Homo sapiens: one gene and its partners. The protein of the gene in region 3 purifies or fractionates together with the protein of the main gene of each other region. This does not show direct contact. Each region holds a gene or a part of one and is shown on either strand. Other genes may lie near its edges. The genes, in order: TEX264, NCAPD3 and MYOF.

Region 1 (3,650 bases), on a different chromosome or scaffold from region 3:
CATTGCTCTGGGCTCACATCTGGGCCCCATCTCCCCTCTGCAGGTTTGCAATTTCAAGCAAGCTCTGTTCCATCCTGCAGCTTCCAGAAGATACCCCTTTCCTGGGACTTGGGGAGTGGTCTCCTCCTGTACTAGAGGCCACCTCCTTGGACTCCAGCGGAGCAGCCTGACAAAGCTGAGGCATCTTCCATATGGAGTGATGGTCACACAGTACGCATGGATTCCAGGGGAATGAGTGTTCAGCCTGGGGGCCCTTAGCAGTTTATATGGAGAAAGGCAGAGTTCCAGCATCTATAGCAGTTTGCCAGGCTGCCAAGCTGGGGAAGGCTAGCCAGAGAGCCAGAGGCTGCCATGCAAACCAGGAAAGCTGAGATCAGCCATCCCTTCCAGAATCCCGAGAGTCCTGACAAGTGCTTCTCCTTGGGCCTCTCGCCGTGAACTTCAGGTCCCTCTGTCCCATGAGACCAATCCTGTTCCAGGCTCAGGCACATCTGCAACTCCCGGGACAGCAGCTGCTCTCCACCTCCCAAACCCGAAGCTAAGATCCATTCACCCCTGCCCCTCACCTAGCCTCTGGAGAGGCTGGTGAGCCTGCCAAGTCCTCCCCCCGCAACTCCTGGCAGCAGGGCTCCTGGCCTCTCTCACCCCTGCCAAAGCAGAAAGCTGACGGCTGCTGTCATTCCATTTGAAGAGCCTTCACAGCAGTCCCAGATCCAGAGAGAAAAAGAAGGGTGTACACACGCGCACGCACACACAGTTAAAAGCTGTCGGTGCTAGAAGAGTGAGACGCAACTAGTCTCATTAGTAATCTCCTTTCTCTGACCTCAGGGCAGGGGAGATGAAGGCAGGGATGGAAGGGAGCCTTATACTCTCTCCTTGCTGTCTCCTGGGCTGAGAGAGGCACAGGGCCACCCCTGTCCACTGCAGGCTGTGACCAGCAAACAGAGCTAGCCCCTTCCTCATCTCTCCCCTGGCTTTGTTCCCCAAGACGCAAGGTCAGGCTAAACACAGGGGCAGAGGCAACCCCCACACCCTGCTGCCAAAACAAGCCCAGGACCTTCGGCCATGCCTCTTCTGTGGGCAGCCGGCCTCTATCTTACTCTCCCCGCTGATGGCCAAGCCCACACAAGCATGCCTCACACCTGTCTCTGGGAGAAGCCCCTTGCTCTCCCCCATATCACTGGCTTCCTTGTCTCAACCCCCACTCCAGGAGCACAGCTGACAGGCTCCCATGGGAGCGGGGAGGAAGGAGGAAGGGCTTTCATCAAAGAGGTGACGTCAAAACCAGGCAACTTGTGAAGCTGTCAGGGGCCGGGAAATTTGGACAAAGGTGTCTAAAAATAAACCCCTGAAGCCAGGAAAAGGCTTTGGTGGCTGAGTTGCTCACCACCACACCACATGCCACATGTCCTGTTCTGAGGTCTGGAACCCAAGAAGTCTCTTTCCCAGGGGTGCCCCTCCAGATGGGCCCATGAGGTTGAGGATGGCACCGACAGGACTGGAGAGGCCTTCCTTGAATGAAATGGGGCGGGACTCCCCAGAGGCAGCACACTAAGCAGGCCTAGGGCACTGGTATCTTCCTTCCTGCCCACACCACCAGCCAGCCCGCCCCCACCTCCAGTCCAACCGCAGCCAGGCAAGCACATCCTGCCCCACACCCCTTTTGGCCACCACCCTCCAGCTCACAAAGGAAACTCCCCTCTATTCTCCCTGTGCCCTTGCCTTATCACCGTGACAGCCCTCCCCTTTCCAGGTCTTCTCACTCCTGATTCTTCAAACCTGTCTTTGACCGCCAAGGACACAGCTGGTGACCCAGGGCCTCATTTATTCATTCCTCAGCCCCAACACCAGACTCCAGGGACATCTGAACTCCCATTTCCATCATCAACGCTGTGTCCCTTTCCCCAAGCTGCTTTGGTGAACAAAGTTGCAAGGATCCTCCAAGTGTACCAGGCTCTCACTCCCACTGACTCTCGTCCTGTTCCCTGACCCCTGCCACACTGGCCACGCCCTCTGCGCAGCCTTTGCTGCCACAGGCTGTCCACTGCCTACCTGGTCCCACAGAGGCAGGGAGGCACAGGGCAGCCTCCCAGGTCAAATACTGCCAACAGGCTGATGTCCCCAAATATATCCACCAGCCCAGCCTTTCCTCAACTCCAGGCCACACATACCATTGCTGACTCCACACCCCCCAACTTAGATGTATCTCAGGCAGCTCCCCTGACATAGCCCAAATAGCTACCTTCCCCCCAAAACCAGGGCCTCCCTCAGTTCCCCACATGTCAGTGAAAGCATCACTACATACTTGCCCACCTGCCCAGGCCAGAGGGGAGCAGAGCCCTCTGTGACTCCCTCACTGCCTCTCCTTCCACAACAGTGAATCCACCCAAAGTCTATCAGTTCTATCCCAAAAGTGATTGTAAATCTCCATCCTTGTCCACAGCTCTATAGCCGCTGGGCCTGCCCAAGCTGCCACCACTCACAATGGGATTCATGACAGCCTCCTAGGCTAATTCCTTAGCCCCAGGCCTAAGCATCTCCACCTGGTCCCAGATCTGTGGTCCAGTCCCACCCTGCCCAGAGATGGGACAGCTCATCTTGTACAGACGTGGCTCCAACTGTGTTATTTTCCTGGTTGGAACACTGCAGTGACTTCCTGCTGCATTTAGACCAAAGCTCTGACTAGAAGTTCTTATCTCCTCTCTAAAGGCTCTTCTAGGACTCTGCCTTGAGGTTATCTCCTCTGAGAGGCTGTCCCTGACCATTCTGTCCAAGTTGGTTCCCTGACTTTTCTCACCCTCTCCTTCTCTAGCACACGTCCTATTTTTGTCTGATATTTATTACCTATCTTCACCACCTCACTGTGAATGGCTGTTTCATGCACCAACGTTTCATTCACATTGTGCCCATTATAGCACCTGGCACACAGACTATAAATACAAGTTAAATGAATGAACAATCACGTCCAAGCCCAAACTGGGGTCATTTCCCTAGCAACCAAGTTTACAAAACGTTTAGGGGAGGAGGGATGTGTAACAGGGCAAGTTTTAAAAAAATTTCTGTAGACACAGAAACCCGTCAGATGACCAGGTGACTGGCTCTCCTTCCTCCAGGAAGGTTGGGCTGCCAGCATTGCCAGTAACCAAGTCAGGAAGTAAAGGAAACAGAGCCTGCCACTGCTGTCCCAGCCCTGGCCTCTGGGAGCAGATGTATAAGCCCATGCACAGGCAGGGCCACGGGCAATACATGATTACCTGGGGCCTGCCCAGACACTGGGAGCCTCAGGTCCTTGCTTTGCAGGCCTCCAGCAGGATGAGAATAAAGTGGCCTGTCCATTCATCTGAGCCAGGAGTGTGGGATAAGCACTATGGATGTCTTTGGTCAAAGCCAGAGCCAAACTAACCAGATCAGATTTATGAACAAGTTCTCCATGCTCTTGGGATATGCTCCGGCTTCCAAAAGATCTTGGGCATCTGAAAGAGATGCCAACAACCTCTGCCCATCTTCCTAGCTCCACAGGTACCTGTTCCATGAGGGCCCCAGGGTGCTGCTCTCCCAAAACCACTTCTTCCTCCCATTCTAGGCAGTCCTCCTCAGCTCCACCCAAGGGGCCTGGCTGTCCCCAACACACACACCCCAGGCCTGTGCCT
Region 2 (3,650 bases), on a different chromosome or scaffold from region 3:
GGGTTCCACCAAAGCCGCTCTTTCCCTTGGATGTGCAGCCAGGGCCGTGAAGAGCCGGCCCACTGTGCCAAGCACGTCTTCCCTTAATGGAGTTCAAGTCCATCTGGAAAACTTTCCCAGCTGGGGTCAAGAACACAGTCATCTTCGTTCATGCTGCTTGGGGGTAAGGTGAAAGTGAGTCTTCGGGTTTGATTTCAGGGTGCTTACCTTTTGCACTGACTCAGATTCACAAGGTCAGGAAATAACTGCCCTGCAGGAGCTGCCTTCGGAGCTGCCATCACCAGGCTGAATTCTTTGTCAAGCAAGGGGACCATGAGGAGCTCAGTCGGAGCAAACCCAGGATGTGTTGACTTGCAGGGCGGACCTAAGTGGGGCCTCAGACCTTTCTTGCAAAATCTTTTACTAAGAAATAAATGCAACATAGTTTTTCTTTAATTCAGCAGTTATAGCTCTGTTCACATTATGTGTTTTTCTTCCTCAAAAAAATGCTACAATTTTTTTTCCAATAAAGGCCTCAACAAAAATTACATTGAATATAAATTTTCAAATAGCTTTTTATACTAGGAAGCCAAGGTAGGAAAGATAGTCTCATTGTATGATAAAAATAAAAACTTCCAAATATTCTTGTATTTATTGCCTGACTTTAGACCCTAGAAAGGAAAAAAAAAAACAAAAACAGAGCTTTGATCCTACATAGACTACTTAAACACTTAAGAAAAATAAGCCTTCCTCCTGCTTGTGAGCACACACACAGGATGGCCACACGTTGCTTGTTGTCAGTAGCTTGAGGGAGTCTCTTCATTGGCCTGTGGAACCCACTCCTAGTGGCAGCTGGAAAAGTGCATGGATTCCTTCTCTTTGTTGAGACTTCCCTCCCAGTTGGAACTGCAGTGTCTTTTTCTCCCTATTACTGTTAGGTGGAATGATTCTTTCTCTTAGCAAAGTGGTCTTGCCCCTGGCACCCCTCTTTAAGACCTAAGAATGTTTTTCCCTAGGTATGAGAAAAGGTTTTCTGTAAAATCTTCAGAAGAAGACACAAAGATGGGATTTGAGCCTTAGTTGGAATCCCCTGAGAGCCAATGGGGAGGCTAATGTAGACAGATGAGCAGCTTTTAGATCCATGCATCCTGGGACTTGCTCCAGAGGCTGTGTCTGAGCATGTCTTTCTCCCATTGGGAACCTGGGAGAGATTGCCCATTAACTGCCACATAGCCAGGATGCTTCCTAAGAGAGAGAACTGTTAGTTACTCACATATTTTTCTGCTTGTGTGGCCAGTGGTGTTTGCTCCAAATATACCATTGTACCTGTTAGTTACTGGAATGGAAATCATCTGCTTTCAGTAATGTCAGTCCTATTGTTCCTATGATTTATCAAGCAACATGACTTGGGGGGCTTTTTTCTTTCTTAACTTTTATTTTGCGTTCAGGGGTACACGTGCAGGATGTGCAGGTTTGTTACACAGGCGAAGGTGTGTCGTGGGGGTTTAGGGCTTTACGTTTTTATTCAAGAAAACATGAAAGGATGCTCCTGGCTCTGTTTCAGGAGGTGATGCAGGATTACCGAGATGAGCTCAAGGACTTCTTTGCAGTTGACAAACAGCTGGCATCAGAGCTTGAGTATGACATGAAGAAGTACCAGGAACAGCTGGTCCAGGAGCAGGAGCTAGCAAAACATGCAGATGTGGCCGGGACGGCTGGAGGTGCTGAGGTGGCACCTGTGGCACAGGTAGGTGTGGGGCCCACTGCACTGTGACCAGACAGTCCAGTCTGCTGTCTGCTACCAGTCTGTCGTTTGTCTGGCACCTCTCAAGATCTCCGTCATCAGAGGTTAGTCAGCCCGAAGGCCTCGAGAGTGCTGCTTGTTGGCCACTCCCTCGTGCCTTTCTGTCTGTGATGGATTTACTGTGCTCCAGACCTCCCTTCCATGAGGACGTGGTGCAGGAAGCGAGCTGGCAGCAGCAGTAGCTGGTGACTATAGATCCTAGGTCTGCCAGGGTGTGTCAGTGTGTCCGCATCTTCCCCCAGCACTCCCTCTTTAGAGCAGACCGGCACACGGCCATTTCTAGGAGTAGCTGTTGCTCACCGTCCTGAGGAATGCAGGCAGATCTCTTGTAGGAAAGACCAATGAGCACAAAGTAGCATACTCCTTTTTCTCTTCTGTCATGCCACAGCATCTACAAGTGGCAGCTTTCTCATAGTATTCTGTTTCTGAAAAGGAAATTCAACTTACCCAGGGTTGATATGGCTTCAAAGTACATTACTTATGGACTTGCTCATAGTACGTGAAGATTCTATTCCAATAAAGTGTTAAAATGGAGAAAGGGAATGGCTTGTACACTGTTGGTAGGGATGGAAAGTAGAACAGCCACTATGGAGAACAGTATAGAGGTTCCAAAAAACTAAAAGTAGAGGTACCATATGAGGCAGCAGCCTCGCTGCTGACTGTATAGTCAAAAGAAAGGAAATCAGGATGTCGAAGACATACCTGCACTCCCATGTTTATTGCAGCACTGTTCACAATAGCAAAATTTGGAAACAAATGTCCATCAGTGGATGAATGGTAAAGAAAATGGGGTGCATATACAGTGGAGTACTTTTCATCTATAAAAAGTGAAATCTTGTCATCTGTTGCAACATGGATGAACTTGGAAGACATTATATTAAGTGAAATAAGCCAAACACAGAAAGACAAAGATTGTATGTTCTCATTCATATATGTGAGCCAAAAAGGTTGATCTCACGGAGTTAGAGAGTGGATTTTTGGTGATTACCAGAGGCTGGGAAGGGGTGGGAGAAGGGGGATGAAGAGAAGTTGGTTAATGGGTACCAAAATACAGTTAGATAGAAGAAATAAGTTCTAGTATTCAGTACAGTGGAGATATTACAGTTTAACAATTTACTGTATATTTCAAAGTACATAGAAGAATTGGAATGTTCCCAACACAAAGAAAAGATACTCACGTTTGAGGTGATGGAGATGCCAATTACCCTGATTTGATCATTACGTTGTCCACATGTATCAAAATCTCATATGGACCCCCAACCATGTACAACTATCATATATCCGTTTTTGAAAACTTAAAAAGTATTAGAATGTACATACTCTTTATCTTCTCTACCAGGTTGCCCTGTGTTTAGAAACAGTGCCAGTTCCTGCTGGCCAAGAAAACCCTGCCATGTCACCTGCCGTGAGCCAGCCCTGCACACCCAGGGCAAGTGCTGGCCATGTAGCAGTATCATCTCCTACACCTGAAACAGGGCCATTGCAGAGGTTGCTGCCCAAAGCCAGGTAAAGAGCCCCTGGAGGCCACATCAGGGCTGGTTCTCTGTGGCGATGTTCTCAGAGGCGTCCCTGCCATTCCCAAGCGTGGGCAGGAAAGTCATTGTCATTGTCTGGCCTGCCACCCCGCTCCACACTGTGCCCTGGGAGGTTTGAATGAGGGTGGTGAGGGATGCGCCGGTGAGGAGGCACGCGGGGACACAGTGCAGCACTGTCACCTCTGCAGTGGTCTGCAGTGAGAAAGTCAGCGGCTGTGGCTGTTCTCCACAGGCCCATGTCCCTGAGCACCATTGCAATCCTGAATTCTGTCAAGAAAGCCGTGGAGTCAAAGAGCAGGCATCGGAGTCGGAGCTTAGGAGTGCTGCCTTTC
Region 3 (3,650 bases):
TTCTCACTGTTGGAGAAGAAAGTTAGAGACATAGAAATACAGAGGACTAGGATAAACCTTGTGGTATTGGACTGGAATTGGAAGTATCTTTATGAAGTCATAGCTTTTAATATATTGATAGATATAGAAATAAATAGACATACATGTGTCTGTGCAAATTCGTTTGCTGAGAAGGCCTAGAAGCAATGATATTTCAGTAGTAGTGAGCACTGTATACCCAGATTTTGTTTCTAAAATGCTATTCCCCACTCAAAGGAAAAAGCTGCTTGGAGAAATAGCGATTTACGGACTGGGGCAGAGAAAGTACAAGATAAGCTCAAAACATATGGTTCTATTCCATTGAGCACCTGCCAACAGAGAAGTTGAGGAAGAGCCTACCATGACTGTCAAAAGTCCTAATCAGGGAAAAGGGAAAGCCACCATCCTGTCCAGATTAGGCAGCCTGGTCAGTGGAGAGAGCTGATAAGAAGAACCAGGATGAAAATTGCTGAAGAGCATCTCAAACACAATTAGAACACAGGTGCAACTAATTCTCCACAAATGCCTTTGAGATGTACATTGCCTATCAATTGCAACTTTATTTTCAGGACAGTTATGATTAAGTCAATTTAAACCTATAGTTATCCTCCCAGATTGCCTTTATAACATAAAATGATATTTCAGATTTTGCCGTCGAGTTTTAGATCAAGTATACTCCTGAAACCCCATATGTTTTGGTCCAGCCCTGGTAGAGATTAGATCTTTAAAAAATTAATATTAACATAATGTTGAAATCAAAACACCAATGCCAGATGGATTTTAGCACTACCTGATAGGAGTAACTTAGTATATGTGTATATGTGTGTGTGTATGTGTGTGTGTGTATATATATATATATATATATATGTATATATTTATCTTTTTAGACAGAGTCTCAATTTGTCCAGGCTGGAGTGCAATGGCGCCATCTTGGCTCACTGCAACCTCCGTCTCCCGGGTTCAAGTGATTCTCCTGTCTCAGCCACCCTAGTAGCTGGGATTATAGGCTCACATCACCATGCCCAGGTAATTTCTTTTGTATTTTTAGTAGAGACAGGGTTTCACCATGCTGGCCAGGCTGGTCTCTAACTCCTGATCTCAAATGATCTGCCCACCTTGGTATCCCAAAGTGCTGGGATTACTGGCGTGAGCCACTGCACCTGGCCCAAGTAACTTAGTATTTTTGCTTAATTAGAAATATCACAGACATATCCCCCTTCTCCTCACCAATCTAGTTGACCAATGTCAACTAGACAGATAATCACAGATATCATATGTATGCAGTTTTCACCCAAGGAAATCCCCAACCTCCAAACAAAAGAAGTTCCTCTAGTCTGCAGCAAGAGTGGAATGTGTCAGACACTGGTTCCTCAAAGCTACCTCTTCCTGCAGTGGAGATTTCCACTGCAAAGTTCTCAGAGTTTCATATTGCTATTGGAATGAACCATTCTCTCTACACAAAAATTACGGCAGAAACTATGAGTTCCTGTTCCACCCCACTCCTACCTTTTTAATCCTCCCCTCTTCCAAAGTAAGAAAATTTTTATCTGGGCATATGCCTGCCCAGGCATAAGACTAACATTTTCCACCTTCGTTGGAGTCACATGTGGCTGTATGACTGGATTCTGGCCAGTGGAAAGTGAGTAGAAATTAAGAGTATGACTTCTGCATCCTTCCCTTCAAGAGAAAGGCCTATGTCATCTTCTCCCCACTGTTTACCAGCCCTCCCCTCAGGCTGGAGGGCAGATGTAGTAGTGAGCTGCCTCTACCATGCAGACAATGATAACTCCTGAGTGATGGCAGAGCAACCGGGGGTAAGAGCCTGGGTCTCCAATACCACTGAACCTCCATACTAACTTAGGACCATCTACCTCCACTGTTCCTAGAGACATTGCTCTTACCTTATTGATCACTGTACTAAGCACTTTCTTGTGTTATAGTGGCCTGGCCTCCATCCTAATACCTAATTCACCCTGCTTGGTGAAAAGGAAATGCAGAAAAAGAGAAACTTACCAGCCGTTCTGCCATAGCTAGGAGAGTGTTCACCGCATCCAGGCGATGACTAATATCCTCCCAGTATGAAGTCAGGGTAACAACTGGCTTGGTGTGGGCCCAAGGCAAGTAATAATAGTAGTTGCCTGGTATAAAACATTGGGGGTCAATGAACACTGAACACTTAAAATAGACAGCATGTTTATTAAAGAGATGTGCAGACTGAGCTGCTGATTAATCCACAGGCTTGGGGAATAGCTTGAGGTGGTCTGGTTCTTTAATTTGACTCAATTAAGCAACTGAAGACTAGGAAGCTCTTTTTCATTCAGGCTGTTCTGAAATTTTCTCTGAGACACCCTAGTAAACTGAGCACAGCAATCTCAGGATCGTTTAGTGATTCAGGGCCATGCATCTGAACATCAAAGATGGTTTCTTAACGTGGTAGTAGAAAATACAGATGACATAGGAAGCTAGACTGAACATGTTAGTCCCTAAAAACTGTTATTCTAAATAAATGTTTTTGTTGGAACTGGGGCAAAAGAAAAGAATTTTCTGTTCTTGGAAAGCTTTAGCTGGCTACATAGGGTTTGGTACTAGAGCCTTACTGTGATTAAGAATTATTAGCTGATGTTTCCTAGGATGTCTTACATTTTAAAACTGCTTGTACAAAAATTAAGTTAAAACTCTGGCAATACTGTTGGGAAATTTGATCAGTATTCCTCTCTCCCTTCTCTGTACTCTCAAACCATTTGTTGACAGTTTTATTGGAAGTTCTCATACTTTGCTTTCTATTATGATTTATTTTATACACTAGAATGTAAGCTCCTTAAAATCAGGGACTGTTTCTCACCCATCTTTGTTCAAATACAGCTATTTAATCCTCATGTCAACTCCAGAGAAGACGAAGAAACTGAGGGTTAGAATTCAGTGACACGGTTAAGGTCACAAGCTGGTGAGTAACAGAGTGAAGACCAGAAGCATGATTTCCCAGTAGCTGATCCAGAGTCCCATTCATTTTCCACTACTCAGCCTAAGAAAGATTTGGGGCTTCGTAGGGGTAGGAGCTGCTTTGCGGAGCTCAGAACTTAGCACAGTGGCTACCTTGGGGTCTTACATGGCAAAACCATTGTTAAAGCTGGGTGGGGAGAGGGTAGCATTGGGGTTCAGCCTCTGGCAATGGGACCTGCAACTTCTTGGGTCTGGCCAGTCTTTAAGGTGCCTGAACCCCAACCACACTCTCTTCCTCATTCAACCTTTTCCTTTCCACTAACCATAGGCTGCGTAGAACAGTGCCAGAGGGAAGACACAGTGCTTGCTTCCGGTCCCGTGGTGCACCCATTGTAAACGTGTGGAGAGAACTGTTAGTGCCAATCTTACCATCAAATACAGCACGGCTGTACTGAGTTGTTGATGCCAAAGGCTTACAGGTGGTGTCAAACTTGTTGCCATAGTTCCCAATGCTGACTTCAAACTGAATGGCCTCACCAACATCTTGCAACATGGTGGCTGAATGAAACACGGCAGACAGGCTGTACTTCCGCCTTCGCTGGTATTTCTATAAAGTATGAGCAGACATAAGGTTCAGTGAAAGGCCATTTGTTCTTATTTACATGTGGATTTCTAGGAGACGCAATTCTACA

Evidence for each region.
Region 1: the proteins of MYOF (region 3) and TEX264 purify together in Homo sapiens (co-immunoprecipitation; one large-scale study listed by IntAct). This does not show direct contact.
Region 2: the proteins of MYOF (region 3) and NCAPD3 purify together in Homo sapiens (co-immunoprecipitation; one large-scale study listed by IntAct). This does not show direct contact.

Annotation. Positions count from the first base shown.
Region 1 is NC_000003.12:51,684,638-51,688,287, reverse strand, and holds part of TEX264 (testis-expressed protein 264), read right to left. Parts: intron 3,474-3,650; coding exon of another isoform or gene 3,414-3,473; exon of another isoform or gene 1-3,413. UniProt on the Homo sapiens protein: Major reticulophagy (also called ER-phagy) receptor that acts independently of other candidate reticulophagy receptors to remodel subdomains of the endoplasmic reticulum into autophagosomes upon nutrient stress, which then fuse with lysosomes for endoplasmic reticulum turnover.
Region 2 is NC_000011.10:134,157,968-134,161,617, reverse strand, and holds part of NCAPD3 (condensin-2 complex subunit D3), read left to right. Parts: intron 1-1,543; coding exon 1,544-1,726; intron 1,727-3,122; coding exon 3,123-3,289; intron 3,290-3,550; coding exon 3,551-3,650.
Region 3 is NC_000010.11:93,377,832-93,381,481, forward strand, and holds part of MYOF (myoferlin), read right to left. Parts: intron 3,566-3,650; coding exon 3,388-3,565; intron 2,157-3,387; coding exon 2,032-2,156; intron 1-2,031. UniProt on the Homo sapiens protein: Calcium/phospholipid-binding protein that plays a role in the plasmalemma repair mechanism of endothelial cells that permits rapid resealing of membranes disrupted by mechanical stress. Involved in endocytic recycling.